Regions from separate parts of the Homo sapiens genome. Here all the other regions are linked to region 1. The links come from fine-mapping of genetic effects on gene expression. A gene starts in region 1. Each other region holds a variant in brackets. All regions are shown on one strand. Distances are between the middles of the regions. Region 1 holds the start of SNX10-AS1 (SNX10 antisense RNA 1). Region 2 overlaps SNX10 (sorting nexin 10). Region 3 overlaps LINC02981 (long intergenic non-protein coding RNA 2981). Region 4 overlaps SNX10 (sorting nexin 10).

What was found. PIP is the estimated chance that this variant, and not a neighbour inherited with it, causes the effect.
Region 2: its variant is fine-mapped to the expression of SNX10-AS1 in subcutaneous fat (GTEx, PIP above 0.99).
Region 3: its variant is fine-mapped to the expression of SNX10-AS1 in pancreas (GTEx, PIP above 0.99).
Region 4: its variant is fine-mapped to the expression of SNX10-AS1 in substantia nigra (GTEx, PIP 0.96).

What each region holds. Positions count from the first base shown.
Region 1 is chr7:26,396,182-26,404,291 of GRCh38, reverse strand. SNX10-AS1 (SNX10 antisense RNA 1) reads left to right here and starts at 4,874. Exons shown (of 2, transcript NR_136272.1): 1 at 4,874-4,951. It overlaps LINC02981 (long intergenic non-protein coding RNA 2981), which reads right to left and starts at 5,723. Exons shown (of 5, transcript NR_148502.1): 1 at 5,271-5,723. RefSeq lists silencers at 5,187-5,296, 5,387-5,846 and enhancers at 6,317-6,556, 5,631-6,587.
Region 2 is chr7:26,353,486-26,361,595 of GRCh38, reverse strand. It overlaps SNX10 (sorting nexin 10), which reads right to left. Exons shown (of 7, transcript NM_013322.3): 3 at 535-621. Among named protein-coding and RNA genes, the nearest start is that of LINC02981, 41 kb to the left of the region's middle. The variant G/T (reference allele first, on the strand shown) is at 3,977.
Region 3 is chr7:26,416,352-26,424,461 of GRCh38, reverse strand. The region is part of intron 1 of LINC02981 (long intergenic non-protein coding RNA 2981); the gene reads right to left. Among named protein-coding and RNA genes, the nearest start is that of SNX10-AS1, 21 kb to the right of the region's middle. The variant C/G (reference allele first, on the strand shown) is at 4,041.
Region 4 is chr7:26,368,570-26,376,679 of GRCh38, reverse strand. It overlaps SNX10 (sorting nexin 10), which reads right to left. Exons shown (of 7, transcript NM_013322.3): 6 at 4,647-4,859; 7 at 2,297-4,189. The coding sequence ends at 4,108. It overlaps SNX10-AS1 (SNX10 antisense RNA 1), which reads left to right. Exons shown (of 2, transcript NR_136272.1): 2 at 4,112-4,661. Among named protein-coding and RNA genes, the nearest start is that of LINC02981, 26 kb to the left of the region's middle. The variant AATTT/T (reference allele first, on the strand shown) is at 4,518.

The sequences.
Region 1 (8,110 bases):
CTCACCATAAAGCTATGCAGAGAAATCGGCGGGAAATTCACTGTCACACATTAGAAGTGTCTTCCACGATAAAACGTTAGCCTGGAGTGGGAAACTAAGCACACATACTGTTAGTCGGTGTGTAAGATGATCAGCTTGGCAATATATATCAACATTTTTAATGTACGTCTTTTTAGCTCCATTTCCACTGCTAAAAATTTATTTTATGAACATACTTGCACAAATTTTCAAATGTGACTTATAAGGATATTCACTGCAGTAATGATTGAAATAGCATACATCTAAACATTGTTATATCCATACCCTGGAATTCCATGCAGTTATTTAAAAGGACGCCACAGATCTAAATGTGCTAAGAAGGAGTAAAGTTCAATAGACATGCATCACTTAATGATGGGGATACTTTCTGACAGAGGTGTCGTTAGGTGATTTCATCATTGTGCAAACATCATAGAGTATACTTACACAAACTTAGATCATAGAGCCTACTACACACCTAGGCGAGATGGTGTAGCCTATTGCTCCTAGACTACAGACCTGTACAGCATGGTACTGTACTGAATACTGTAGCAATTGTAATACAATGATGAGTATTTGTGTATCTAAACATAGGAGATGTACAGTAAAAATACAGTATAAAAGATAAAAAATGCACTTTGGGAGGCCGAGGCTGGCAGATCATGAGGTCAGGAGATAAACACCATCCTGGCTAACATGGTGAAACCCCGTTTCTACTAAAAACACAAAAAATTAGCTGGGCATGGTTGCACGCACCTGTAGTCCCAGCTACTCAGGAAGCTGAGGCAGGAAAATCGCTTGAACCTGGGAGGCAGAAGTTGCAGGGAGCCAAGATCGCACCACTGTACTCCAGCCTGGGCGACAGAGCGAGACTCCACCTCAAAAAAAAAAAAAAGATTAAAAATGGTACACCTGTATAAAGCACTTACCATGAATGGAACTTTCAGGACTGAAAGTGTCTCTGAGTAAGTCAGTGAATGAGTAGACAGCGAATGTGAAGACCTAGGACATTACTGCACATTACTATAGACTTTATAAGCTCTATACTCTAGCCAGGAATGGTGATGCACGTCTGTAATCCCAGCTACTCAAGAGGCTGAGGCAGGAGGATCACTTGAGCCCAGGAGTTCTAATCCAGCCTGGGTAACATAGAAAGACCCCATCTCAAAAAAATAAAAAGTGAAAATAATAAATAAACTCTGTATACTTAGGCCACACTAAATTTATTAATTATTTTCTTTCTTCAATAATAAACTTAGCTTACTATAACTTTTTACTTTATAAAATTTTTAATTTTTTTAACCTTTTGATTCTTTTGTAATAATACGTACCTTAAAACACAGATTGTATAGCTGTACAAAATTATTTAATTCCTTTTTATCCTTATTTATATCAGCTGTTCTCTATTTTTAAAATTTTTATTTTTTATTGTTTTTAATTTTTAAATATTTTGTTGAAAACTAAGACACAAACAGATACATTAGCCTAGGCCTACACAGGATCAGGATCATTAATATCACTGTCTTCCATCCCCACATCTTGTCCCATTGTAAGGTCATCAGTGCATAGAACTGCCATCTCATTTTTTTTTTTTTTTTTTTTTTGCTCTTATCACCCAGGCTGGAGTGCAATGGCATGATCTCCACTCACCGCAACCTCTGCCTCCTGGGTTCAAGCGATTCTTCTGCCTCAGCCTCCCAAGTAGCTGGGATTACAGGTGCCTGCCACCACACCCAGCTAATTTTTGTATTTTTAGTAGAGATAGAGTTTCACCATGTTGGCCAGGCTGGTCTCGAACTCCTGACCTCAGGTCATCCACCCACCTTGACATCTCAAAGTGCTGGGATTACAGGTGTGAGCCACCGTGCCCACCCCCATCTCCTCTATTAAAATTCCTTCTTCTAGAATCCTTCTGAAGGACCTGCCTGTGGCTGTTTTATAGTTAACTTTTATACATATATGTGTGTATAAATATGTGTGTATGCATGTGTAGAAAGTAGTCTAAAATAATAATAAATAGTATAGTAAATGCATAAACTAGTAACAGTTGTTTATTGTTATTATCTAGGATTATGTACTTGATAATGTGGCATACTGTGGTATGTGGTATACTTTTAAATAACTGGCAACGCAGTAGGTTTGTTTACACTGACACCACCACAAGCACACAACTAATGTGTTGCATTAAGATGTTACAAGGGCTAAGACATCACCAGGCGATAGGAATTTTTCAGCTCCACGGTAATCTTACAGGGCCACTATCGTATATGCAGTCCATTGCTGATCAAAACATCATTATGGGGCACATGACTGTATTATTAATTGAAAATATAAGATGTTGAAGATTAACATTCAGCATTAACCCATTTGTGTAAACAAAGAGTAGATATACAGTCATGCACCACATAATGACATTTCGGTCAACAATGGACCAAATATACAACAGTGGACCCATAAGATTAATATGGAGCTGAAAAATTCCTATAGCCTAGTGGCAATATAGCCATCACAATGTTGTAGAGCAATTACCTTTTTAAATATAAATTTAGTGTAGCCTAAGTGTACGGTGTTTATAAAGCCTACACTAGTATACACAATGTCCTAGACCCTCACATTTACTCGCCACTCACTCCACTCACCCGAGCAACTTCTAGACCTGCAAACTCCATTCATGGTAAGTGCCCTATACAGTTGTATTTTTTCTTTTTTTACCATTTATACTGTATTTTTGCTGTACCTTTTCTACATTTAGATACATAAGTACTCACCATTGTGTTACAGTTGCCTACAGTGTTGTTTTTTTTTTTTTGAGATGGAGTCTTGCTGTGTTGCCCAGGCTGGAGTGCAGTGGCATGATCTCTGCTCACTGCAAACTTTACCTCCCAGATTCAAGTGATTCTCCTGCTTCAGCCTCCTGAGTAGCTGGAACTACACGTGTATGCCATCAAGCCCAGCTAATTTTGGGGTTTTTAGTAAAAACAGGGTTTCACCATGTTAGCCAGGCTGGTCTTGAAGGCCAGCCTTGGCCTCCCAAAGTGCAGGGATTTACAGGCGTGAGCCACAGTGCCTGGCCAATTGCCTTCAGTATTCTGTTACAGTACCATGCTGTACAGGTTTGTAGCCTAGGAGCAATAGGCTATACCATATAGCCTAGGTGGGTAGTAGGCTACACCATCTAGGTTTGTATAAGTACATTCTCTGATATTCGTGCAATGATGAAATCGCCTAACGATGCATTTCTCAGAACATATTCCCATCATTAAGAGATGCATGACTGTATATATTTGCATGTGTTTTTAAGTTACTGGAAGAATATACAAAAATATTAATAGTGCTTGTAACAGTGAATGGTATAGAAAGAAGGAAGGAAGGAGTGGGAGGATTCTGTTTTTTATTTCATACACTTCTACAGTGTTTGAATTATTTTTATTGAATATGTTACTTTCATTATTTTTAAAAACATCTTCTTCCCACCTTCTCATCTTGTCTATTTCAGCCTAGCCAACTAGGTTTTCTCAGGACTGAGGTTATTTATTCCATATTAACTCTGTCTCAAGCTCATATGCATCTCCCACGATTATTTTTCCCAAAACACTTTAGGTTTAAGAATGACCTTTCCTAGGTCTTTAGCTTATGATTAACCAAATGAAACCATCACTAGATGGACTCCCTAATTCAGGTGTTGAATTACAAAAATGAATTTTCAGGGGGAAAAAAATGCTAACTCAATTATGTTAGTTAAAATATCAGTAAAATTAGCAATGCCACAGTGTCATGAAGCAGAAGGTCAAAGACCCACACACCCTTTACTGGGCGCCATGGTGGGACTTAACTGGGGCAGTTCCGGTTCTGCCATTAGGACCATGAGCACTCCAATCTCAGTGAAATTGTATAAGACACTGCCATTATCCCCGGATCATTGCCACGATAGACCCAAACAACTCCAGTCTATCGTGTCAATGTGTATTTGGGGAGTCTTTAACACACGGATCATTGGCGAGCTGCACCATAAAAGCCCTGTAGGAGCCGTGGCCGTGTGTGGAATCAATGCACACTCGGGGACTTCCCCACGCCCGGATCATTTGCAGCGCATCGTGTCAATGCATACTCCGGGAGCCCCTACTCCGAAGCCTGTGAGTGCTGAGGAACAGTGTACACCAAAAATACTTATGGAATAGTTGTTACAGTGCGTACACAGTATTCACTTTTCTAAATGGCATGTCAGCAAGTTTAGTGTGCCACAAATAACTCCTAAAAGGCACAAAACACTCCTAGAGGCCCACCTTCACACATGAATGGTTGGTCCATGGAATTGTGGCATGGCTGTGGGGGAGTGTAAGTTTTTCTTTACAGTGAACAAAGGGAAAAGAAAGAGACATCTGCTATTCAGTGTTGTCAGGGTTTTCAGCATAATCCCAAACACCTCCTAATTATTTTCCTGGGCATTTGATCCCTAAGATACAAGGACCTTCCCTCCATCCCTGCCCTGTTCCAAAGTACCTGTAGAGCAAGCTGAGAGGGCAGAGTTAGAGGATGGGTGGGGTTGGGTCTTAAGTGCGATCCCACAGAGATATAATGTGAACCACATGTGTAAATTTAAATGTTCTTTGTGGCCACATTTTTAAAAAAAGATTTAATTCATGATACTTTATTTCACCCCATATACCCAAAATATTATCATTTCAATATGCAATCAATGTTTTTAAATGATGAATGAGCCAGTTCACATTCTTTTTTCCATACAGTCTTCTTTACAATGGGGTGTGTATTTCCCACTTGGAGAACATCCTGGTCTGGCCTGGCCACACTGCAAGCCCTCGGCAGCCTCTTGTGGTCAGTGGCTGCCCCAGTGAGCAGCACAGCTACAGAGGTTCAGGAAAACCAACCCCAGGAGCGTGGATGTTCACTGCCTTCCTTCAACCACTCCAGGCAGGTGCGTCCACCTTTCCTCCTCATTGCCTCACCAGGGCTGCAACTGCCGAACAGCCTTTTCTCGGCAGCCTGACAGAATAGCTGTGTGTTGGGTTTCTGCAATCATAAAAAATGACCACAAATATGCATTCGGAAAGAGGAACGAAAACTCCTCTAGGCCCAAACGGTAATGGCAGTACTAGGTCATCTTTCTTGGAGACGGAGGTGAAGGGAGGGCAAGGGGCCCCTGGGGAAGGAAAGAGGAGGCGGGCGTGGCGTCGAGCGCGAGGGCGGCGGCCTAGCTGCACCCGCGAACTTCCCCACACCTGCGACCAGCTCACCTCGCGGCGTGAGGGATCCCTGGCAGTCGGACGCGGCAGGGTGGCTGGTTTCTGGGGCTGAGTCTGGCCCGACACAAAAGAGGAGGGAAAGGAGAAGGAGACGGAAACAAAGGCGCGGGGGAGGACGAGGAGGCGCGCGCGGTCGCGGGGCAAAGCGGCGATGCGGTGCGGGCGCGCGCAGCCTGGGGCTCCCGGGACCAGCGGGCGGGAGCAGGCGGAGCGGGCAGGGCGATTTGAATATCAGGCTCTGCCACACTCGGGGCGCCGCTGACAACTTCATTACCTCCGCATATAAAAATGACTGCCGGGGAATGCAAATAGCTCGCCTGTCTCAGCCGCCTGCCCTCGTTCCGCCGCCGGCTGCAGGCGGAGGCCCCGGGAGCCGCGGCGGCCGGAGGCGCAGACGCGCCCTGTCCAACATAATGAACTGCCCGGCCGCGGCTCCGCCCACCCCCCAGCCGCCGAGCCGGGCCGGGAGGGGGAGCCGGCCCGGTGCTGGAGGAGGAAGGGGTGGGCGGCCGGGCGCGGCTCAGAGGCCGCGCGTTGCTAGTCAGTGTCGGCGCAGGCCCTGCCTCTTGACTCTGTCATCCAATTACTGCCATGAAAATACCAGGAAACTAGAGTGCTCAGTGGGTTCCACTCGTGACCGCGAACTCTGACGGAAAAGCGGGACCCCCGGCCTCCGTCCCGTGCGCCCTGGTGGTTAAATTGGACGCCAGCATCCCGGCGCCCCGCTCTCGTCTCGCCTGCAAGCGGGCGGCGGGTGTGCTGCGCCCTGCTCCCCAGGCCTGCGGCCACCGGGACAAGGCTGCGTCGCTGTGCAGGACCCGCCTCCCGAACCCTGGGCCTTGCTGAGCTCCCCGTGTGGCCACCGAGGCAAGCCGCGTGCGGGAGGGAACGCAGGCTTCACGGCGCCTCTCTTCTTGCCCTGGCTTGCTCCCTGGCAAGAAGTCACCTCCCGCCTTCTGATAGCTCCCCCTGTCACATTTGGGCCCCTTGTGAACTTCTCGAGGAGAGGAGCTAGGTCACTTTTATTAATAGCAACAACGACAGTAGTAAACATATGCTGAGGACTATTCTACGCAAGGTACTATGCCAACTGCTTTACCTACATGTTTATCACAGCGATCTTATTGCACTCCTGGAAACCCAGGCTTAGCAAAGCCTTGAAAGGTTCCCAGCATAACCCAGCTAAGGTGGGAGGGAGCACAGGTGAGAACCCAGGCCCCTCTACACTCTCAATCACTCTGCAGTATTTTCCGGGTCCTTCTTACAGCTCACACAACTGTCCAGCACTCCTTTGTCCCCCGAACGCATCACCCCCAGCCATCTTAGGCCGGGCCAGCCCCCCGCCCCCACCCTCACCCCCTCCCTCACCCCCTCCCTCACCCCCTCCCTCACCCCCTCCCTCTCCTTGGCCCAGAAGTAAATCCTAAGTAGTCTAAATCCGTTATGACCAACCCCTTCCCTTGCCCAGGCACTGGCTTAGAAAAGAGCATGTGACCAGTCCTGGCCAAGGCCAAGCCAGGGGACATCTGTTGGGGTTTTCTGGGAAATGCTTCCTTGCCCTAAAAAAAGACACCTCTAGCGATTCCAGTTTCTTCTGTTGTAGAATGTATATCCACCACCTGGCAACCACGGAGGAGCCAGGGAACAAAGTTAGTCTTTGCAGAGATTTACAGGATTAAGTGAGCTAACTCCAGGGTTAAAGTTTAGGAGAATCATGTTTTAGTCCTATCTCTACCTGCGATGGAGTCATGCTGCCTCGTGTTTATTCAGGGACATATTTAAAGTTAACTCCTTTTTGAAACGAGACAAGATAAAAAGATGTAAACAAAGGAAAACTCCAGAAATTTGGTCTTGTCTCCATTAAAGAGTGTCTGTTTCTAGGCACTTCAGTGGAACCTCTCACTTCCAGCTTCTCTTCCTGGGCACTCACCTCTAACTCATTCAGCTTTTTTCCCTCAAAGTAGCTCTTTGCCTACACAGGCAAGGCATCTCTTCCCTCCAGGAACATCAGAACCCCCCTTCTAACCCTCCTGCACCCACACACCCAGGCGTCTGAGCTTGACTGCCTTTGAAATGTTTACTGGCCTTCAAGTAGTCTCTTTGAAGAATTTGCATCTAATTTTGAACTTAGGGAAAATCGGGCATAACCAGTCACTTACTAGTTTCCTTGGCAACTACTTTAAAACAGAATCTAAATTGGAATGAAAATGGATTTTTATGGTTTCACTAAAATCATACACACTTTTCATGAAAATATACCAAAAAAACTATAAAAAATATATACATACTATATGCTTTATTCGTTTATCTGGAATCAATACACAGTAACTAACTCAAATATCTCTGTTCCCCACTGCTGAGGAAAGGCACTCCACACTCCCTTAGCAAGACATTTAAGACCCTCCACAATCTGCACCTAACCCAGCTCCAGCCTTATTTGTCTACTACAGTACATCCCCAAATCATGCTATTGCATTTCCTCTCCCATGACATTCTCTAGAATGCCCTTGAACTTCATGTCCAACTGTTCAAATATCACCGATCTTTCCAAGTCCAGATTAAATATCACCTCTTCCAAGAAGCTTTTCCCATTCCTCACATATAATGACACAAATTGAGTTACTTAGTGTTTATTTTCAGCAATATTTAGCATATTTTATTTACTGATACCCAGTATTGTTAAAATAATGCACATTTCCTAACAGTTGGGGGGCTTCAATATTACCATGCAAACAATTAAAATGAGTAATAAATATTATCAGCAGAATTGTATAAATCTTACTCCCAACTTAAGGCTGAGCTGTTCTGTCAGATGTGATAAAATAAAGCTT
Region 2 (8,110 bases), 43 kb after region 1:
GATACAGTAGCATCCACGCAAGGCACATCATTTCTAGTTGCTTACTCGTTACATTAATTACTCAGATTCTAGATAAATTAATCACAATAATTGCACATATCCATTTCCCACCTTCTGATTCTATATATAAAACACCACACATCTCTTTTCCAAAGAACTCTATATCCTCTCAAACTTGAAGGTTATCAGGCATTATATTATCCAGAAATATGCTATAGCAGATCATAAGAAATGCCATTAATGAGCTATAAGTACTCTTTACCCATGCATTTTAGATGCGTGCACATCTTCACATGTGAAGGCAATAAACATTAAAATGTTAATATTAACAAAGGAACAATAAGGGATTCAAATAAGTAATTTTTCAACTTTAGGAACCATCTTACTAGTTCATGTAAGATAAAAGCATTAGTTGTAATCATTCAAATTCAGTTATTTGAATGAGAAAAACTTTTACAAGTGTCAACTTTATCCCATAAAATGTATCCCATAAAAGTCCCTCAAAATTACTATTTCTACTGACTACATACTTACATGAATACATATCTCATAGTCAATGTAAGAATGCCAGAAGTCCTCCTTCTGAATCCTAGGATCTCGAACCCAGACACTTACAAATTCCTGTAATGGCATCATAAACAAAGAAATATTCTTCAGAACTGCAAGTAGGACTGGAAAGAACTGAACAAAACGACTGCACTAAAACAAAACTGAAATGAGCTTTAACCAATGTGGTACTTGTAATCCTTTAAAAAACAAGAAGTAAAGTTAATGAATCAGGCACCACGAGCAAATCTAGAACACACTTTTGCCACATAATGGAATTTTTAAAATAATGCAACACTGAGGTGGGAGCACTTCTGGATAGTTTTACTGGTTATCTGAAGACAAAGTATACTGTAAAACTGATTTTTAATTTTTAATCTTAAATAATTGGTTCAGGTTTTTTTCAAATTTAAAAAGTGATCATTTCTTACTTTCTTCATCTCTCTAAACTGAAACAATGGGCCCTTCTGGGTAAGGTGCTTCCTAGGACACAAATAAGAAAGGCACCAGGCCAAGCAGGGTGGCTCACACCTGTAATCCCAGCACTTTGGAAGGATCTCTTGAGCCCAGGAGTTTGAGACCAGCCTAGGCAACATGGTGAAACCCCATCTCTACAAAAAATACAAAATTAGCCAGGCGCAGTGTGGTGCATGCCTGTAGTCCCAGCTACTCAGGAGGCTGAGGAGGGTGGATCACTTGAGCCCAGGAGGTCAAGGCTACAGTGAGCCTTGATTGTGCCACTGCACTCCAGCCTGGGCAAAAGAGCGAGACCCTGTATCAAAAGAAGAAAAAGAAAGGACACCAAAGCTCATGGGAAAAGTAAGCAAAGAGGGTTGAAGTTGACTTTGTGCATGCATCCCAGCCACATGAGAATAAGCGATAATAACTTATTAATAGAAAGAGGAACACCTTCTTTTACATAATACTTTTCTATTTTTAAAATACATTTCCCCTACATTAAATCATTTCATCTTCATAATACCTTTGTGTTATACATAGAAGTTAGGGATATTAAAAATCATATACAGTAGATAATTTTGTTCTTTTATAAAGATAATAAGAATAGAAAACATGGGGCAAAATTTAAAACAATAGGCCGGGCGCAGTGGCTTACGCCTGTAATCCCAGCACTTTGGGAGGCCGAGGCGGGCAGATCACAAGGTCAAGAGATTGAGCCCATCCTGGCCAACATGGTGAAACACTGTCTCTACTAAAACTACAAAAATCAGCTGGGCGTGGTGGCGTGTGCCTGTAGTCCCAGCTACTTGTGAGGCAGGAGAATCGCTTTAACTCAGGAAGCGGTGGTTGCAGTGAGCCGAGATCGCATCACTGCACTCCAGCCTGGCGACAGAGCAAGTCTCCGTCTCAAAAAAAAAAAAAATTAAAACAATACTTTTTAACAGGTGCTCTTTACTAAATAGGTTTAGTTTAAAAATTTGAAAATGTACAGCAAAAAACTATCATGTTTCACATAAGTTTTTAAGTATAACTTATTTACTCAGTGATCATAAACTTGCTAACTGAGTTTGATTTTAAATATTAGAGCTTTTTGATAAGATTGGGAGTTCAATGCTGGAATTCAGGCATTTCTTATTGCTTGTTGGGGCACATCTGAGAGGCAGGCTATGAACGCTTGAGAGCAGAAGAAAAAGAGAGATCGGGGGCTTTCTGGACAAAGCACCTCCATTGAATCATGCAGATAATTAAATGAGACTCTTCATCATAGAGGATTTTTTTTAATCAAAAAAATACACCACACTCTGAAAATAACTTTTGCCCCTATCAAGTTTCACCTTCTAGGGCAACACTTTGTCCTTGCACTGGAGACTTCTGTCCCACTACTTGTCTTTAGTAGACAGGGATTATGAATTACTGTTCCAAAAAGTCTTCTTTTAAAATATTTTCATTGTGTATTTTTAAAATCATTTAGGGGATAGAATAAGAACAAGATAGGCAGGGCTCACACCTGTAATCCCAGCACTTTGGGAGGCTGAGGCGGGTGGATCACCAGAGGTCGGGTGTTCGAGACCAGCCTGGCCAACATAGTGAAACCCCATCTCTACTAAAAATACAAAAATTAGCTGGGCATGGTGTTGGGCGCCTGTAATCTCAGCTACTCAGGAGGCTGAGGCAGGAAAATTGCTGGAACCCAGGAGGCGGAGGTTGCAGCAAGATCACGCCACTAAATGCACTCCAGCCCGGGCCAACAACAGCAAGACTTGGTCAAAAAAAAAAAAAAAAAAACACAAGATAACACTATAGTGATGCTCTTTGGCCATTATTTCTTTTCTTTTTTCTGTTTTTTGAGATAGGGTCTCACTCTGTCACCCAGACTGGAGTGCAGTGGTACGATCTCAGCTCACTGCAGCCTCAAACTCCAGGGCTAAAATGATCCTCCTACCTTAGCCAACCCCGCCCCCAGTAGCTGGACTACAGGCGGGTGCCACCATGCCCAGCTAATTTTTTAATTTTTTTAGAGATGGGGTCTTGCTATGTTGCCCAGGCTGATTCTGAACTCCTAGGCTCAAGCAACACCCCTGCCTCAGCCTCCCAAAGTGCTGGGATTATAGGCATGAGCCACTGTGCCCCAGCCAGTATTTCTTCTTCTCTATTTCTTTATTTTTTTCATGCGCATTAAGAGACAACCATCATTTCTTAAAAGCACATTCTAAATTATAAGAGGGATTTAAAAACCATTTTTAAACCAAATATCCATAATATCCCCTAATCACAGTGTGATAAAGCAGATTCTGCCCAGGGATGGAAACAGAAGCAAAAATCCAGGTACTCTGCTCTTGGCCTATGCTTTTCACCTCCATCTCTTGTCACCGTGTATGTGTGTGTGTCTCTTAAACTTTTAAATGCACACTCAAAATTCATTGCAGCACTAAGACTCCACATATTGTTTCAATCCTGAAAATCTTTAATTTGGTTGGAGTGCTAAATATCACTATTCTCTTGTGGATGGCAAACTTCTTCCCTCTCTGCATCCTGAAACGTTTCTGTGCCTGAGAGCCAACCCAGGCTGTTGTTCTTTGCACACTATTGCAATTCTAGGGTGACCTCATCCAAACACATTCAACCCCCTCCCATGAGCTGATGGACCCCACCCAAAGCTCCATCCCAGTGCAGGCACCTCTCCCATGGATCCAGCCTCTAGCCTGATCCACCTAGAAGTCCCTTGAGCACGCCATGTCCATACCCTTCCCACAGCATCCTGCTCCCCTTCTCAGTGAAGAGCATCTCCCACCAACCCCAGCTAGAAACCCAGTTCTCCTAGACCCCTCTGTTTGACTCATTCCCCAAATCCACACAGACCAAGTCCTTCATAGTCATTCTCCTTGGAACCACTGACAACTATTCCCTCTGCTACTGCCTTGGTTCAAGGACCTCTTGCCCAACATTAATGCAAGAACTGCTAATTTATTTC[G/T]GGGCCCATATCCAGTGCATTCCCCACATGAAGACAAGAATGGCTCCAAAACACGTATCTGATGATGTTGCTTTCCTTCTGAAAATCCTTCAAAGGTTGCCCCATAACCTTCAAGTTCAAACTCCTCAGCTAGCACAATACAGCCTTTCATGATTTTCACTCTGCTTATCTTCAAAGGCTAAGCATAGGTCCCCATAAGCAACATGCCACTTCACACTTCCATGCCTTTAACTAAGCTGTTCTCTGCCTGGATTGCTAGGCCACCCTACTGCCTTTTTTTTTTTTTTTTTTTAATCTTCTCTTTTCTTCTACTATTTTTTGCCAACTCCAATTCATTTTTCAAATGCAACTCGGTCACCACTTTTTCTGGGAACCCTTCTCAGATTCACCCAGTATGACTTATTTGACCCTCCTCTGGGCCCCTAATGTCTCTGGGATTGCCTTGGGCATAGTCCCTACTCACCACATCCTACTGTGCTGTATTGTAATTACCTGTAGGCCTCCTCTAGCAGACGCTAAGCTCCTGTAGGGCAGCTTAGGCTGTCTTGTAAGACTTGAATGCCTCATACATCCAATGCCTTCCATTAGTATCATTTAATGAATAAATAAATGCCTGTAGGAATAAACAAACTGCCTTCAGGAAAGGAAAATCAAACTTCACTTGAAATTAAAACCTCATCTACTTGGGTTCTTGGGCTCCATGAATTAATGATAAGTTATTTAGCAGCTGGTCTAAGTTTATCTTAATTTAACAAACCCCTTCCTCTAAGGATGTGCCAATTAACAGCATAAGGATCCAAGAGCAATGTTTAAGATCTGGGAGAACAAACTGTTTTCTAGCACCCTAAAGAACTCCAGAAGCACCTATTTACATAGAAATAATTGAAAATCCTTCTGATAGCTTCAGTAACTTAGTCCCCTAAGACTTGTACCAGGCAACAATTTGTTGGCCTAGTGGGAGTTAAAATATGTACTTGAAAGTAATAAAAGTACATTTATTTTAAAATATTCTATAATTCACATGGGTCTCCTCCTCCCCCACTCTGCAATTAGTAGGAATTAGTGAAGTTTCCCCATACTCTCAGCTACAAATAGCACACCCAGGAAGCCAAGGTTCACCTCTAATCTCTTAATTAGACGCATCCCTCACGACACTGCCCGCCATCCTTCAAAGGAATGTTGACAGGCTGTCAGCCACAGAGGACAGTTCCACAGCCCCTTACCTAGAATCATATGGATTTCCTAGGAAAATTGCTTCAGCAGCTGCAGTTAGTCAATTTAATAACCTTATTAAACACTTTAATGACTTCTTGGGCCTAATGACTATATGTAGTATGAGAAAGCCAGGCAGAGTGGAATTAAAAATTTAGACTAACTGTCCCTGCTGTTCTCCATGTGAAAACAGACTTCTAAAGAAAGACTCCTAGACTCTTTGAAGATCTAATTCCTGTGTTATCCTATAATAATCAGCCTTTGATTTCAATGTTCCCTGTTTTTCCCCCATCCCCACACCCCAGGTTTGACCATTATCCACTTCTACCCTATCATTTTTTTCCTTAGCCCTTAAGTGAGATGAAACTAATAATAAAAATAACTGTATTGTATTATACCAGGGCACTTGACATGTGGCAGGCATTATACCGTTTCACAAATGTTTTCTTCAATCTTTACAACAACCCTCAGAGCTCAGTATATTCTCATCCTACTTTACAGATTTTTTAAATGAGGCTTCTAAAGCTTAAGCAACTGGCCCAAAGTCAAATGACCAGCCTGAGCTAAGTTTCAAACTCAGATCTGCCTTGTTCCAAAGACTGTACTCTCAAACATGTTCTATCTCGTGATTCTTTTACTAATAATAAATATTAGGCAATTTCCAATTTCACTGTAATTGTATTGTTTTGGAGGGGGAAGTTTTTTCTGCTTTTATTAGCTAAAATGCCAGTTCAGACAACATGCTCTTCTCAAACTCTGTCCTTCTGGCTTCTTAAAGCTTTGTATTTCATTTTTGTATTTCTAGCACCAAGCATGGTACTAGCACATAGTAAGTGCATATTAAATGTTTCAGAATTAACCAACTGATTGACAAGATTTTTTAAAAAGCAGAGGTCCTCTATGCTGAAAATCTAAGATGCTATTGAAAGGAATCAAAGCAGAGACACACTATGTTCATAAATTGGAAGACGCAACATAGTAAAGAGAGAAATTCTCCCCAAATTGATCTGTAGGTTTAACACAATTCCTATAAAAAATCTCAGCAAGACTTTTTTTGAAGACATAGATGGGCTTATTCTAAAATTTATATGGAAAGGGAAATGTCTTAGAATAGCCAAAAAATTTTTGAAAAAGAATAAAGTGGGAGGAAGCCTTCTTCCCAATGTTAAGGCTACAGCAGCAAGACAATGGAGTCCTAGAGAGGGATAGACACAGAAGATCAGTGAAAGAGAACAGAAAACCCAGAGGGAGACCTACACAAATACGCCCACCTGATTTTTGACAAAGGTGCAAAAACAATTCAAAGGAGAAGGAAAAGCCTCTCAACAAATGATTATGGAACAACTGGACATCCACAGGCCAAGAGATGAACCTCAACCTAAAGCGTGCACCTTATACAAAAATCAACACCAACCAAACCACAGATGTAAATGTCAAACACAAAACATCAGAGAAAACTTTTAGAAAAACTTTTAGAAAAAAAAAAAATCAAAGAAAATCTTTCGGCCTAGGACTAGGAGAAGAGTTCTTCAACTTATCTCAAAAGGGCAATCCACATAAGGAAAAAGTGATCAATTAGGCTTCACCAAACTAAAAATCTTTGCTTTGCAAAAGATGCCGTGAATAAGGTTAAAAGGGCAAATTAAAGATTGAAGAAATATTTGCAAACTACACATCCCATAAAGGACTTGCATCTAGAATATATTTTAAAAAAAAACAAAACTATCAGACGGGTGAGGTGGCTCTCTCCTGTAATCCCAGCACTTTGGGAGGCCAAGGTGGGAGGATCACTTGAGCTCAGGAGTTCAAGACCAGCCTGGGAAACATGGTGAAACATTTAAAAACTAATTAAACAAACATTTAAACAAACATTTAAAAACTAATTAAAAATTAGCTGAGTGTACTGGCTCACACTTGTAGTCCCAGCTACTCAGGAAGCTGAGGTGGGAGGATTGCTTGAGCCTGGTGGGTGGGTGGGAGGTTGCAGTGAGCTGAGATCACACCACTGCACTCCAGCCTCAACAAGAGAGACCCTGTCTCAAAACACTCATTCACTTACTCTTATTTAAAAAATAGAATTCAATTAGAAAACAAGCAAAAGATATGAAGAGACATTTCACCCAAATAGGGCATACAGATGGCAAACAAGCACGTAGAAAGATGTTCGACATCGTTAACCACTAGGGAAATACAATTAACCCTACAATGATATATCATACATACCTATTACAGTTTCCAGGGGGATTATCACTATTTTTTATTTTAGCCATTGTGATAGGTGTGTTTTTTAAAATTTTCCATCATAGCTTAGTTTGAATCTTTGTAGCACAGTAAAGATGAGTAGGTGTTAACTGTAAAAATATTTACTTAGATTACAGAAAGATCACAAAAGACGAAAGCTAATAAAGCAGAATGTCTAGGTGTTAAGTGAATACTAATTTTTCATAGCTTTGATGAGAATTTTCTAACATAAAAATGTAAACTTGTCTCAGTTTGTTCTTTTTCTTGGGACATTTTTTTTCCTATTTCAAAGTAGTGTTTTACATGTTCATGTATTTACACTGGAGACTCATTCATTCACTTAAAATATATTGTGCAACAACAATGCGCTAGGTACTTTTCCATACAACTAATGATTATAGAATTTACCAGTGTGGGCTGGGCGTGGTGGCTCAAGCCTATAATCCCAGCACTTTGGGAGGCCAAGGCAGGCAGATTACCTGAGGTGAGGAGTTTGAGAACAGCCTGGCCAACATGGTGAAACCCCGTCTCTGCTAAAAATACAAAAATTAGCCAGGTGTGGTGGCACACACTTGTAATCCCAGCTACTCGGGAGGCTGAGGCAGGAGAATTGCGTGAGTCTGGGAGGCGGAGGTTGCAGTGAGCAACTGAGATCGTGCCACTGCACTCCAGCCTGGCCGA
Region 3 (8,110 bases), 20 kb before region 1:
AACCATCATTCTCAGCAAACTATTGCAAGGACAGAAAACCAAACACTGCATGTTCTCACTCATAGGTGGGAATTGAACAATGAGAACACTTGGACAAAGGGCAGGGAATATTACACACTGGGGCCTGTTGTGGGGTGGGGCGAGGGGGAAGGCATAGCATTAGGAGATATACCTAATGTAAATGACCAGTTAATGGGTGCAGCACACCAACATGACACATGTATACATACGTAAAAACCTGTACGTTGTGCACATGTACCCTAGAACTTAAAGTATAATAAAAAATTTTAAAAAAATAAAAATTAAAAAAATTTAAAATTAAAAAAGAAAAAGAGAGAGTTCATCAAAGGCAGGAGTGGCTGGGAAGCCTTTCTGCAGTGAGTGAGTTTCAGGAAGGCTTCCTGCAGCAGGTGAGCTCCAGGTGAGCCCTGACAGCCAACCAGGGTTGAGTGGAGTGGAGGGCAACCAGGACACTGAGAAGTTGTGGTAATGGTTAGAAATGGTACGGGACTTGAGGGACAATGAGAAAAATGACAATGTCTAGTGGAGAGAAATGTTGGAGAGTCCAGGGAAATTAGACTGGGTCAGATTATGAAGGACTCAGAATTTTATCTCTGTTCAACAGATGCCTTTTGACAATTTATACTATTTGGGGCCACTCACTGCAGTGGATAGACCATAAGTAAGATACTCTCTCTACTTCAAGACACTAGTTGTCTGGAACAGAGGACTAAGTCTCTTGAGAATTAACTATTTACAGCCACCAGTGTAAATAGGAACTGAGCTGAGGAACCTCCTGGGGAAAAACCAAACAAACAAGTCAATCAACTTGAACTTTGTTTTCATAGCTGTTGGTCAGACAATTGCATACATGTCTCAAGGCACCAGAAGCCAGGTTGTGAGAGAGATGAGAGATGGTAGGAGAGAGTTCGCCATGTGGCATGGGGTCTGGCAGGACAAGCCACTCTTTGCAGAGGGCCTGAGAGCCAGACATGAGTGGTGATCTTGGAAAACTGGCAGGCCTGGTACCTGGAGCACCTGCCTCAGCTAAGCTGATGGTGTCTACATACCTGTGTAGGAACTGAGGGGGGGGTCTCAAAACAATTCTATAACACCTCAGTGTGCAAAATAGTGTTCTAAGACCCCACTCGTACTGTGGAGGGAGCATTCTCACTTTGGGAGACCACCAAGCAGTCATAGCCCTCATGAAACTGAATCAGATCAGTCGGGGCAAGCCAATCTTTCAATATCTGCACTTAAGCAAGGAAAGAGGGCCCAGAAAGCAGGCCAGAGAGAGGCAACATAGGCCAGAAGTATTATGCTAGATTAGATACATCCACAAACAAATGTACTGCATCCCCACCGCCCTGACTTTTGGGCTTGGTCAAGTGAATTGCTTGGACTAACAGGATGTTAGCAGGCAGGACGCAAGCTTAGGCTACAATGTGCTTGTGTAGTGGCGCCTGCCCTCTTGAGTTTCTGTTCTCACCTTGAGAAGACTGTGTCCCAGTTAGATCCTTGATCTGAGAAAGAGCAGACCCAGACCTGCAGGATGAAGCAGAGCCGACCCTGGCCAGCCTGCAGATGCATGAGAATAACTAACATAGTATATAATTCACACAAACTGGGAATCCAAGTCACACAAACTGGAATCCCACATTCCACAAACTGGGATTGTCTCCGCCTGCCTTACTGAATGCACTTATCAATAAAGAAGTTATTCACAATAAGAAACTGTGAAGAAGGACCCCACACAAAGAAAAGTTGTTTTGTTTTGTTTTTCCATCAAAAGCTATGGTTTACTCAAGCTTTGGCCAAAATCAAGCATAACTGTGTAAGATAAAAAGTTCAAATTAACCCAGACTACAGGCTTGGTTCTGCAGTAGAAGCTTCTGGAGCTTATGCAGTATTTTTTCTTTCAGTGCATCTTTCCCTTTGTTTAACTTTTTATCTTGAAATAACTTTAAGAAAGTTGCAAAAATAGTACAGACAGTTCTGTATTCCTTCACCCAGCTTCTCCCAAAGCTCATATCTTACACAATCATAGTTTCTGTATTAGGCCATTTTTGCATTGCTATTAAAAAAATACTCGAGGGTGGAAGCGGTGGCTCACGCCTGTAATCCCAACACTTCGGGAGGCTCAGGCAGGTGAATCACCTGAGGTCAGGAATTCGAGACCAGCCTGGTCAACATGGTGAAACCACATCTCTACTAAAAATACAAAAATTAGCCTGGCGTGGTGGTACGCGCCTGTAGTCCCAGTTACTCGGGAGGCTGAGGCAGAAGAATCACTTGAACCCAGGAGGCAGAGGTTGCAGTGAGCTGAGATTGGGCCATTGCACTCCAGTCTGGGCAACAAGAGTGAAACTCCATCTCAAAAAAAAAAAAAAAAAAAAAAATACTTGAGACTGGGTAATTTATAAAGAAAAGAGGTTTAATTGGCTCACAGTTCTGCAGGTTTTGCCGGAAGCATGGTGCTGGCATCTGCTTCTGGTGAGGCCTCAGGAAGTTTAAAATCATGGCGGAGTGCAGCAGGGAGCCAGCATGTCACATGGCGAGAGTGGGAGCATGAAAAAAAGAAGACCAATGTCCCAGAGTCTTTTAAACAACCAGATCTCTCATGAATTAATTGAACAAGAACCTACTCATCATCCGGGGGATGGTGCTAAGTCACTCACGAGGGATCCCCTCCCATGAGCCAATCGCCTCCCACCAGACCCCACCTCCAATACTGGGAATCATATTTCAACATGAGATTTGGAGGGGCCAAAGCATCCTGACTATATGAGTATCATTACCAAAGCCAGGAATTTAACTGGTACAGTACTACTGACTAAGCCTCAGACTTCATTTGCATTTCACCAGTTTTTCTACTAACTTCTTTCATCCAGCTTCCTACTAACTTCCTTTTTCTGTTGTAGGATTCAATCCAGAATCCCACACTATTTTGTCTCTTTAGTCTCTTCCAGTCTGTACCAGGTCTTTAGTCTTCCTTGACGTTTATGACCTTGACACTTTGAAAGAGTACTGGCCAGTTAGTGTGTAGAACAGGTTTGTCTGCTGTTTATTCATGACTAGAGTGAGATTATACATTTTTAGTAAGAACGCCACAAAAATGACGTGTGCCCTTCTCAGTGCATCGTGTCTGGGGAAGGGGCCGGGGGTCTGGGGGACACCATCTGGTTACTAGTGAAGTTAACCTTGATCACTTGGTTAAGGGGCTATCTGTTGGGTTTCACCATTGTAATGGTAGTGTTTTTGTTTTGTAATTAATACATATCTTGGGAAAGATACTTTGAAGCTATGCAAATATCCTGTTTCTCCTCAAACCTTCACCACTGATTTTAGCATTCAATGGTGGAATTTGCCTGCAACAATTATTACTGTGGCATCTGTCTAATAGTAGCTCACACATCTGAACCTAGAGGGAAGCAGCTAATGAGCCATCCCTTCGCTTCACAACCCCAACCTAACCAATAATGAGATGTGAACTAGTGCAAAGGGGTAAGAAATGTCCAGTTCCTGAAACTAAGGAGTCTTAGCCACTGTTTCTGGGCTGCTTTGCGGGGTTGAGTGAACAGCAGTTGACAGATTTTGCTTAGAAGGCAAAGAGGAGAACAGCTGGGGAGCACAACCAACTTCCATGCTAATCAAGGTGAATAAAGCCATGACGTAGAACAGAAAACCACAGGACTCTGTTTAACACAACGAGGGATTCAACTTTTTCAGCCAACTACCTTGTTTTCCATTTGTAATTAGAGTCACAAAGCAATAGCCTCCTCCTGTGCTACCCCACAAGCAGAGCCCCAGACAACATCCTCATTTTCAATAACTCTTCCCCTTTATCTCACTCTGCCTGATGCTTAATAAGCTATTTACTTTGGACCAACAGCTAATCTGTTAATAACTGATTTTAAATTTTTACAGTCATTTGTCTCTGGCAGGACCTGGGACCACGAAAAGCAGTCCTTTCCTACCTGATGAATTGGCTTTTTCTTTAGCAAAAAAAAGAAAGAAGAAAAGAAAAGAGAAAAATTTAA[C/G]TCAAAAGTCTTCATGGTTGCATTCTGCTGACAATTGGCATTCAATAAGAAATTTCAATGCAAAAAAAGAAATGGTAATGCTTCCTGTGAAATTTATCTGCCTGTGAAATCGTCAGCAAATAATATAAGTGGACGTTTTTCTAATGGTGGCATGGGGTAAAGACCCTCTTCAATATGAAGTAAAGTGTAATTGTACTATAAATTTACAGAGCCTAAAATTCTTAATTAACAAAATTGATGCTCATTGCCTGACTGGAATGGGATATCTAAACTAATGCCATTACAGCCCTTTAAAATGATCTAAATTGCATACCATATGATATATGTATTTTTGTAGGCTATATGCAGAAAAGTGAATTTTGCTTTCCATTAAAAAAAAAGACAATTGAATCGACAATGGTTATTGTAATTGGTATCACACAGCAGTGCTCTGCAATTTAATCACTGCTTCTAAAAATGGAACCGTGGATAACTACTGTGTTCTGAAAAGTGGCGGCCACCCCGTGCATGAGAGTGCTGTGCGCATTTATAAACACCGCCTCTTCCACGAAGTTAAGCTTTCCTAAGAGATGCCATCTCTAATTTTGTAAATAAGAATGACCCCCCAAGGCTAGCATTCCCATCAAATATTTATTAAAACGCACCCCAAGACCTCTCATCTCAAACTGGAATTAAACTCCTCCAAATGTCTCTGAAAGATGAGCGTGATTTAAAACGTGAACCAGCACACTGACGAAGTGAAAAAGAGGGACTCTGGGCAAAGTGGTATTTTGGTATCCGTAAGTGGTGTCAGGTCTTCCTGGAGAGCTAGTATTATAAATTAACAGATGAGACATTGTGCAGAGCCTCTAAAAGGAAAGGCTAAACTGTTTGAAGGATAAAAGCCCTAATCTTATTAATATTTTAGATCCTGCAAGACATTGAGGCTCCATCTGCTGTCAGTAATACCTGAGAAAGAATCAAGGCAGCTGGAGGACAGAAACCACGGCCTCCCAATGGTCTGCTGACCTTCTTGAGAGGCAGATATCATGTGACAGCAATTGCCTGTCTCAGCAGACATGCTGGAAACAGGAGAAAGTGTTAAATATAACCAGGTAGACAGTGATGAATTGACATGCTGAAAAATCGAACGCTTCAGTAATCAGCCTAAGGATCTGATATCAACAACATTTTTCAGTTTTGTCCAAATTCATTGAAAGGTGTACTTTAGCAAGTTCACTTCTCATTGGTAAGACCTTTCATCTTTATGCTGCTTTTCTGATTGGATTCAGTGTCATGATCGGTTTGGGTGGCTCTGTGCGCAGAAAGCAGACGGGCTGCTTGTGAGAGAAGGAGGGCTGGGATGAGCACAAATAAAAATGGGTTTTACCCCAACATTAATTTTAAAACTATTAAATATCTATCAAAATGCTTATTTAGAAAGAATTATTGAAGCCATGGTATATGAAAATGCATCAGGTACTGTGCTCCAACAGCACAGTAAACCTGAAATATTGAAATATTACCCTCTATTTTGCAGCAAGAAGCTTCTATAACTATAATTCTAATTACAGAACTCTAATTAATGTCTATGTGGCTTCAGATAACTTCATTAAATCTTTAGAATATTTATATTCTCCAAAGACAATCTCTATCCGTTAGAATAAAAAAATCCTATAAAATAACTTTTTTTAAACGCTGCTGATACGCCTTTCTTTTTATGAGACATGTAAGTCATAAAATTTACTTTAAGGTTTCATTCATCTCTGTAACAGTATTCCAAAAATGTGTTAACTCAAAAACACTTTTTTTCCTGGTACAAATGTATAATACAGCTATCAGCTGAGATCACTCTCTGCTTTGAGGTTTAAACAAAAACTGGCTGAAGCCTCCTTCCCACATCCTGTGAAGGGCCAATGTCTTCCCCTAGATGTCTGAGAATTCCTGACAGCTTATATTCTCATGGTCACTTCCCTATCTCCAGTGGCTTCTTTTGGCTGGATTCTTGACCTCACTTGTGTCTCGTCTCCCATAGCTGCCCCATGCCAACCTAGATTTTGAATGTAACCCCTTTTACTTGATTTATCCCTCCACCCCCAGAAAACCCCTCAGTTCTCGTGAAGCACAGTCTTTCCATCTGCTTAAGGCTCTCATTAGGTCCCAGGGTCTGCCGCCATCTTGCCTTCTCACTCACTTCAACCCTCTCCTCTCTTATTTCTCCTCTGCTCTCCACCCGCCCCCAAATTCCTGTAAACATCTTCCACAGAGTAGTGTGCTCTCTCTCAGTCTAGCTCCAGACTGTCCAGGCTATCTCCTGAGGGCCTTATCTTCATAGCCAAATGCTTCCGTTAAGGTGGCAGGCAGTCTCCTCCCTGAAAGGAATTGTTGGCTGGCTCGTAAAGTAACACCATTTTCCTCTAGGCTCCCCATATATTACAAGCAAGATCTGACTCATTCCTGCAAATACTCAGGAAAAGAAACACAAAGGACAACTGATTTTGTGATAAGCACTATAGGAAAGCATGGAAAGTCTACAACAGATAGGAATATAAAGTCAGAAATTGGGTGCACTATAACTTGAGGCCAGGGCTTTGAAAGGATCCTGCTTTCAAATTCGCCCTGGTTGGGGTCAATAAAAGGATTGATTCATAGAAATGCCAGAGAGCCATGTTAAGCTGGTCATGAGCCTTCATCCTGATGTCTTCCTAGGAGTAAGCTCCTGGCTTTTCCCAGAAAGTTCAGTGTAGGGGCTCCATCAATAGTAGAACATAAATTGAGACAATGCCCTACTACTTGCATGGGTAGAAAAAATTCCAGGAACTGACAGCAAGTAAGTTGCTTTCCCTTCACTCCCAGCTTGAATATAGGAGATAAAAAAAAGTACCTCTCCAATATCCATACGATTCACACTGCTCAGAACTATGTGGATAATAACACAACATGTGACACACACCTACATTAGAAGAACAGCCTTAGAGTGTTAAAGCCTGGAATCCATCAACACAAATAGAGTGTGACTCGATTCATTAGCAAACTCAGACACAACCGGACCTCTATGGGGATAATTCATGCAGAAGAATTGTATTTTAAAATGTCTAAATAGGTTGCTATTTAGTGCAATTTTTTCCAGCTCTTAAAGCAAAGAAATGACAATTTCTAAACAAATGATAGAAGTTAAGTCAACTAAGTTCAAGCCTAAACAAACATTTTTATCTTAGTTCAATGCTATAAGTGTATATTCAATGTCTGTTATGTTTAACACAGTGGGAGGCAGAAGTGAGAATGCCCTTCAGTATACATTGAAATAAAACCATTGCAAACTGCCTCAGAAGGAATTGAGTAGTTAATTAATAAGCTTTTATTTAAATGTTGCAACCCATAAAACAATTCCTCTGCTACAATATGGCTGCTGTATTAGAGGCAAGCTGGGCAAAACTTCCCTGGGCATTGAAAAAAATGTTGCATTTCTAGGGACCTGGAAAGAAAGTGACTTGTCACAGGCTTTTTTGGGTTTTTTTGGGTTTTCTTGAGATGGAGTCTCACACTGTCACCCAGGCTAGAGTGCAGTGGTGCGATCTTGGCTAACTGCAACCTCTGCCTCCCAGGCTCACACCATTCTCCTGCCTCAGCCTCCCGAGTAGCTGGGACTACAGGCGCCCGCCACCACACCCGGCTAATTTTTTTATATTTTTTAGTAGAGACAGGGTTTCACCGTGTTAGCCAGGATGCTCTCGATCCTTGTGATCCACCCGCCTCAGCCTCCCAAAGTGCTGGGATTGAAGGCATGAGCCACCGTGCCCGGCCAACTTGCCACACACTTAATCATAATTGACTAAACAATTCCTTTGAATCATAACATGTATGATTCAATTTATTTATATCAAATTTATATATATGATATGTTATTAAAATAGTAAACATTTTTATAATATAATAAATACCAACCATGTTATATTACGGTACTGTCCACTGTTTCAGGAACTTAATGTATACTAATTCAAGTACTTATCACAACAACACTATAAGGTAGGTACTACTATTATTCCCATTTACAGATGGGAAACTGAGGCATGGAGAGATAGTATCTTACC
Region 4 (8,110 bases), 28 kb after region 1:
GCGGCAAGGCCCTCTCCACGCGCGCTCTCCAGCCTGGCGGGGCCCTGGAAGCCGGGACACGCGGAGGCCGGGAGGGTCATCGGCGTTTAAGGCAGCCTCCCACACCAAGTGCACCGCCCGGATCCCCTCTGCACGAGGGCTTTCTGCTTATTGCTCTTTTCCCCAGCAGCCAGAATCGTCACCGTAGCGCGGGAAGGGGCCTCGCGGGCCGTCTGCAGCAGGTGCGGCCGGGAGCCGCAGGCCCGCGCGGTAAATCGCTGTCTCTTTGCGGTCGTTGTTCCCATTCACCGCCCGCCGCCCCCCGCCCCACCACGGTTCTTTTTTTTCTTTCCGCCGCGCAGTTGCCATGGGTTACCAGGGCGGTTGCCATGGGTTACCGGACCGAGGCCGGCTGGCTCGCTACCTGCAGCCCAGTCGCCGCCGCCAGCGGAGCGGCCCGGGCGGGACGCGGCGGGAGCGCGCGTGTGCGGGACGCAGCGCGGGGGATGCGCGCGGGCCGCGGAGGCGCCGCAACCAACAGGCGGCCGAGGGTGCAGCCGCGGGAGCGCCACCGCCAGTGGGGTGGGGGGCAAAGCTATAAAGAAGGCCCAGAGGTAAGAAACTAGCAAAAACACAACCACAAGTTATGCCCGTGCTGTGCCTCTAGCAGCAAAGACAAGCGGTGTGGGGTTGGATGAATCTACACTTCTCGTCGGGGGAGAAAGGGTATTTTCCTCTTTAGCATAAGCCATTTACATAGTGTCTTTAGACCAGAGTTTAAATTCAGCAGGAAATTGTAGCTTAATGGTTTTTTTTCTCTTTTCCTCTATATCTTTTGAAAAGAAGTCTTTGGAATTTTGGAGAAAGAGAAAGGGTCATTAACTACCAGAGTTTGCGCAGCTAAAATAAATTAGTGTCCAATGCACTGCTCATGATCTAGAAAAGTTTGCAGTAGGAGTGAAGCGCAATTGTGTCTGCTAAAAAGGGACAATGGTGACTCGTTTGTAAGATGCATATGGCAAAGAATAGAACCAAAGTCCTTTGTATATATAGCAAATGTTAAAGAAATTGTTGCTTATTTACATCCTTCTGAAATTTTTGAACTCCACTCTATTAAAATTATTAATTTCTTATGACCTTTATTTGCAAAGAAAATTCTATGCTTTGAATGTCAAATTGCAGTAACTAATTTCAGACAGTATTTTGTATTTGAAAATGTGTTTATATATAATAAACTAAGAAAAGGTCTATATTCCAAACAAAAACACAAAATTGTACTGAAATTGTTTCCTTCATTGAAAAGATGTTGCCTTGTATTCACAGGATACCAGCTAAGTAATTTAAATATTAAGAGGAAGACTATTTAGAAACAGAATAAGCTTTGTTATTTTCGTTTAAAATGTTAAGGGGCCTCTAATGAAAAGGGGTTGTCTTTTATAGCTCAAATACTGAAAACCTTATTGGTATCACAGTAGCTCAATAATAATGAATCCTTAAGGCATCCAACAAATACAAACCAAATTCAAAACAACGTCCAGTTTACTGTTGGATATAACGGTTATTGTGGCCAGGCTAAATGAAGTTGTTTAACTTCTTAATTGTCATAAAAGAAACTTTGTTCTTTTACTTTATACTGCATATCACTTGTTTGTATTTAATTATTCAATAAAATGTGGACTAGGTTTGAAAAACTGGCAAGATACTTCATATCTTAAGGAATAGTATCTGCTTAAAAATAAATACTTGTTTGTCCCTAGTAATTTTTAAAACTTGAAATTTTAACTAGAATTAAGTAACTTTCTTCTAAGTGAGACTTTATAAGAAGCCGAAGTAACAGGTTGTTGACGTTCAGTGCTGTTGACACCTTTGGGTTATATATAAATCTAGTTCTACAACAAAACACGTAAGTTGGCTTTATAGGTGAATAGTTTACCCTTTAAGAATCAGCCAGGGAAAATGCAGTTTTGCTGTATTGTAATCATAAAGAATCCAGGATTAGAATTCTTTACATTTAAGTCACATTAAAAATAGTGTTAAATAAACATCTATTCAAGTTAGCTACATCAGTAATTATTTTCTTTTTCCTAAAGAAAGCTTTATAAAAAATATGCCAGAGAAAAATAAGAGACAAAGCAAGAAAACCACTGGGAACTGAAGTTCATCTAAATATCTCAGCTGCAAGAAATCAGTTTTAAGAAGCCAGTGTGTGGACATTGAAACAACTAAACCAAGGCTAAAAGCCTCAAATATGTACAACTATAGCTAATATTAAACCATGTTTTACCAAATTTCCTCATAAAAAATAAAAAACACTGAGTTTGGGTCTAAGGCAGAATATATTCTCTTGTATAAAATAAGTGATCCGGCAAAGTTGATTTTTTTTCACGTTTAATGTAAAAATGATCTCGTGACATTTACATACTAAGTATTAGGCATTACATAATATTAATTTTGATGGCTATGTTACATCATCTAAAAATAATATGACAATTGGTGGCATAGTATGTGTTTTTCAAAACTGCTGTAAAACAGAAATAGTGTGAACTCAAATACATATTGCTGAAGGGATGAGGATCGCTCTTAAATGCCTGGATGGCATGAACTTTACATATTAGCATGGTAAGAAATTACTAAATCTTTTCTTTTCCTGTATTAAAATAATGAGGATCTAAGACACATTAAATCAAAATATTTACAAAAATTTAATAATGTTTTAGACCAAAGAAAAAAAGGACAAATTAAAGAAATCATTCTTATTCTAAATTTAATTTTTTTAATGTTAGTTCTCAGTTTTCTTAGCTTTTTTTTCTGTTGGTTCTTTGAAACAAGCATTGTAAAGACTTTTTAATAATACAATAGCTTTTAAACTCTTAGTGAAAATGAAAAGGTTGCTTTTTGTAGTAGCCTCTGCCACTCTTCAATTAGGCTGGGTAACAAAGCAACAAGTTATCCTAGTTATCTGAAAATATCTTCCTGTTAGTTTCACAGAAATATTTTGTACCATTCAACATGGATGAAACTTGGGTAATTATCTCAAGAAAATGTTGCCTCATCTGAAATCTGAACTTCAAAATAGTTTATCTAAGATATCTTTGGGACACTAAAAAAAAAGACATTTTATGAAAATTATACCAATCTTCAAGTAGATGCTTTAAAAGGGGCTTTTTAAAAATGAATAATTATTTCTGAAATTAGCAAGTCGACATCCTTTTCTAAATTATGGGAATATTTATTGGTAAAATTAAATTTATTAATCTTTATAAAATCCTTCCTCTGATTTAAGTAATAAGTAACCACCACTGATACTGAAAGTTATCTAGTGATAAGAAATTGCACATTTAGTCAAAAAATAAATCATTAACCTGATTATACAATGATAATGAAAACAAATTATTTGTCTCCAGAAACCATTTGTTGAAGCTGATTTTGGATAATGAAAATGTATTTCTGAATCTATATATTACAGTTATAAGTAATATTACTAGCACTATCTATGTTTTTTCTAAGATGTAAACATTATTTTAATATGTCTCTATTCATAAGATACATTTCCATCTAAGCGTGAAACAGAATACTGGAAAGGTTAAATACTCTTAAAATATTTCAGTCTAACACCCAAAAGCATAGTGTTTTGCCAGTGCAGGGGAGGTATCCACAAAATATCAGGCACATATCTGAGAGAGGCAGTCTGGTCTACACTGTTACTCTTCATAGGGTTTAACAACATATACACCGTGTTTATGGTAACACTGCCCCACTGATACAAGAAGGAATGCTCTATCTTGATTTTAAATGCTACTTAGTTACCTATCTTTTTAAATTCAATAAAACCAACTCGGTTTTTTAAAACATGTAAGTCATTTCATTGGAGGGCAAGATCTTGTTTACCAATAATGTCTGCCTGTAAAGGATAGTATTGTATTCACAGGATTTTTAGCTTTACACAGAAGCTTACCTAAAATAAGACAACATAAAAATACCACTAATAAACAACCCAACATCTTTAAGAATTTAAATACCTAACATCATGACAGTGAGCTTTAGGTAAGAATGTATTATTATGAAGCTTTCTTCTCTATGACTGGACATAATTTGCTATTCCTAAGATAGTAACATTAGAATTATTTTTCAGGATTCCTGCGGAGCTGTATTTACTTTACATCCATGTGAACTGCTGTCATCACTACTGTGTCCAAGCCCAGAGGATGAACTGGAAAAGAAGAGAGGGGGAAAATAATAAAAAGAGGAAATTGGTTTTCACAACACACTCAAAGCCTGAGTAACAGAGGAGAACTTTAATTATCTCCAGTCACAAAGAGAGACAGGAAATTTGGACTTTTAATTAGCCATTTGGAGTGCAGTTGGGTATTTTTTTAGCTAGATAATTTAAACGCGAATAATTCAAGTCTGACTAAATGAAAGTCACATAATCAGAATGCAAATAATTGAATTTCTACTGCATTCATTAATTCAGTGTGGAGGTGTGTGTGAAGACTACTATGATGAGCTGTCACAGCTCAATAAAATCTCAGTCAATT[AATTT/T]TTTCATTATCTTAGTATTATATCAACAAAAAAGTGAAGTGTGTATATATATCTATACACGTGCATATGTGCATACTATGTATTATATAAATACATATACATTAAATCAAAATGCAAGGAAATACCTTTCTGAATCATAATCTATATCATTTTCTTTTTTTCCTTCTTCATCTTCTTCAGGGAAACGTCTATTCATTAAGGCAAACTTGTGAATTGCTTCTTCCACAGAGTACTTAGTCTGCCCAGAAACACACGCCTCAATGTCTTCTGAATTCAGATGGCTCTGTAAGAAGAGGTGAAGGCTGCTATCTGAAAGCAAAAGTGCATTCTGTAGGACTCTATATTAAAAAAAAAAGGAAAAATAATTGGTGAACAGGATGGTCAGTGATAGGGTAGAAGAAAGAAAAACATTAGAAAAGTACCACTGAAGGTAATTTCTCTACTGTGGTAAACTTTGTATCAATTATGGGCTCTGCCCATTAAGGGGAGGAAAGCATATGTTAACTTTTATTCAATTATTTGGAAATTTAGGTGGGTAAAAACATGAAGCTAATAGTTAAGAACATCTGTTAAAAGAATAACTTCAAGGACATTTCTTCAATTTACCCATCTCTTATTACCATGTGGATTAATTATGGAAATATTTTGCTTATATAGTCATAGAAAGTTATTCTACTTTAAAAAATTTACTGCCAACAGCATGTCAATTCAGTGATCTTTATGGGATAGGCTGTCATGAAACATCAAAACTTTCAACTACTATTAAAAATTATATGAAGAAAATACAATTCTCAGCATATTTTACATTTTAAAACTTTACAGTTATATACTTAAGGGCATGTTTACGACAGCTCATGAGAGAGATGGCTTTTTTTAATACTTAAGGTTAACTGTAAATTTCTCCAAAATCTTTAGGAGCACTGAATCTCTGTGTTGTCAAAATGAGCAACCAAATAAAATTGATCCCAGCCAACTTTACCATATATATAATTAAAATATGATAATTTTGTGATGAATACATACTGCTCTTCCCACATTTAAGATCAAAGTTTACAAAGACAGAACAGATTTCAACCAGGGCATCAGAACTACATGGAAGATTAAAAACTATCCTGTAGCAAAATCTACAGATGCTCAAATTCATATTAGTGAATGTGTTTTCTCTGAAATGCACATCTTAGAATATGAAATCAAATCAAAGTATACCTTTATATTTAAATAAAAACTGGTTTATCTTTTAGCAAAGATGTTGACATATGATCATTTAGTCTCTACTGATAGTTCAATAATTATGTAAGAGGAGACACTAAGACCAGATACAGGGGACAAAACTAACACACTAAAACCCAAGTAGAATTTTGTCCAACATAAGATTTTTCCGATATAACGATCTGTGAAAAATAGATCATGTATTTCAGACCAAATGAACCTTACCTTATATTCTGCTTGTTTAAACAAGTAATAAGGAAAGTAAATCTCTTTTGGCCATTAATATCAATTTAGTGAAAATCCAAGGTCATTATAATACCAAATCCTTTTCTACAAAATAAAACAATTATTTCTTAACAAAGGCAAAAATGCCTAAAAATGCACAGTATTAAAACCAAAATCTAGCTGTCCCCTTTGCTTCAGCAGGTTTACAGTTTGAGAAAATATTCTTTACTGGTCTATTAGAAGGAAAAGTAAAACCTTTGTGCTTTTTAAAAGGCAAAACCTCAAGCAAAGCAGCTAAATCCTTCTTTTTCCCTCTGTGTCCTCCGCCCTGGGTCCTCCCAAAAGATGACCATGTCACATGATAATGATTAATTTACCAAGTACAAGTAGCTAAGTAGTAAATCCCTCTTACTACTCTTTGAGATTTATTTTCTACATTTACAAATATTCACCATTCTTGTTTTTAAATACTTCAGATTAAGAGAAGAGTTATAGAGCAACAATCCATTAATACGAACTTGGATCGTGAAGTCTGTGAAGTCTGAGCAGAGTGTTTCCTGTGGCCTCTGTCAGCGGTTTCCTGCCTGCCATAAGTACAAGGAACTGTTCATGGGATTGTACTCGTGGCTTTGTTTCTGTTGGAAATGTGTTTTATTTTCTTTATAAAATAATGGGTAATCTTTAAAATTGATTTTAGATGGTTTGAGGCATTACACCACAACAGTAATGAGCACTAATGCCAATGATATTGGACACAAATTCATTTTAGCTTTATTTCATGTCTGAAGCAATTCTACTGAGCCTTGAACTGCTCACGTGTTGTTATTAACTTGCTAGTAACTTAACACATGGGTACAGCAAACAAAAGTGATCAGAGTCCAGGTTGATCGGGACCTCAAGGCTACTGTCCTTTTTCTTGAGCTATAATTCAATTTCCAATTTTACTGTACATTAGACTCATTATTTCCCAGCGTTTTCTTTTTCTGCTCAATACTGCCATCTGGAGGACACACAGATGAAAAGAGAAGGAGCCAGGCTCACCCAGCTCACAATTCCAAAGAGCCAGAAAGATGTGGCTGGGGAGGGGACATCTGAACACTCCCCCAGGCCTAGAGTTCAAACCAGTGAGTCGGCTAGGTACAGTTTTGGTTTTTGGAATCTCCTCTGTTTCTCTGGCTAAATTCATGCCACCATACTCCATGAGTTTTAAATAAGCAAAAATAATTTTTAAATGTATTTATATGCTTATTTTAGTCAGATAGTTCATTCTGAAATTTAAAATGAAAATTTTTGAGAGTGTTTTCCCATCTGGTTAGGTGAGCATAATTAATTTATTTTGAGTACTATTTGGCTTACTATCAGAGAGGGCTGTGACTGCCACCATCATAATATTAAATACTATTTTTTCCTTAGTCATGTTTGTGCCATATTTTCCACAAACAAATCTAATAGCCCAAAATCAATTTCAAACCTAATATAAAGAGTACTTTGTAAAACAGTCAATAAAATGTCATTTGTAGAAACCTCCATTTAAAAAGTATATGATTTTCAAACCTTTATAAAAGGAATAAAAAATAGCCTCTAGGATTTTAAAAGAATTTCTAGAAAGATATTTATAGTGCAAATCAGAAGTTATTCCTTTCCCCATAACAGTTTTAGACTAAACAAAGCAAAATCTGTTTTTTTTCCCTAAACTGGACACAGTTGAAAAGCACAGTTTTCCTCAACATGATTTTATTAGATGTATTATATGCTGGTTTAGCTGAGAATATATAGCTATGCAAAATCATTTCATCCTAACTAAGGATGTCCTGGGTCTGCTGAACCCAATACAATGATATATATACATAACTGCATAGTACATGGAAGGTTAGCAGTTTGATGTAGAAAAAAAAAATTAACTCAGCCTGTTTAGCTCTTACTATAAGAAAAAATAAAACCTACAAATCTTCATTGAAGACATTCATGATCTATGCTGTGGTGCCCTCTATTGAACACAAAGACATAAAAATCGTGTGTGTGTAAAACTAGCTGTCATGGTTCAACACTAGCCTTTTGTAAAAAATCTTTAATATTCCTTAATATTTGAAGAAATACAAAACCATGATACTAAAGTCTAAACTGTAGGGTAAATGTAGTTGTATTAATGGGATGA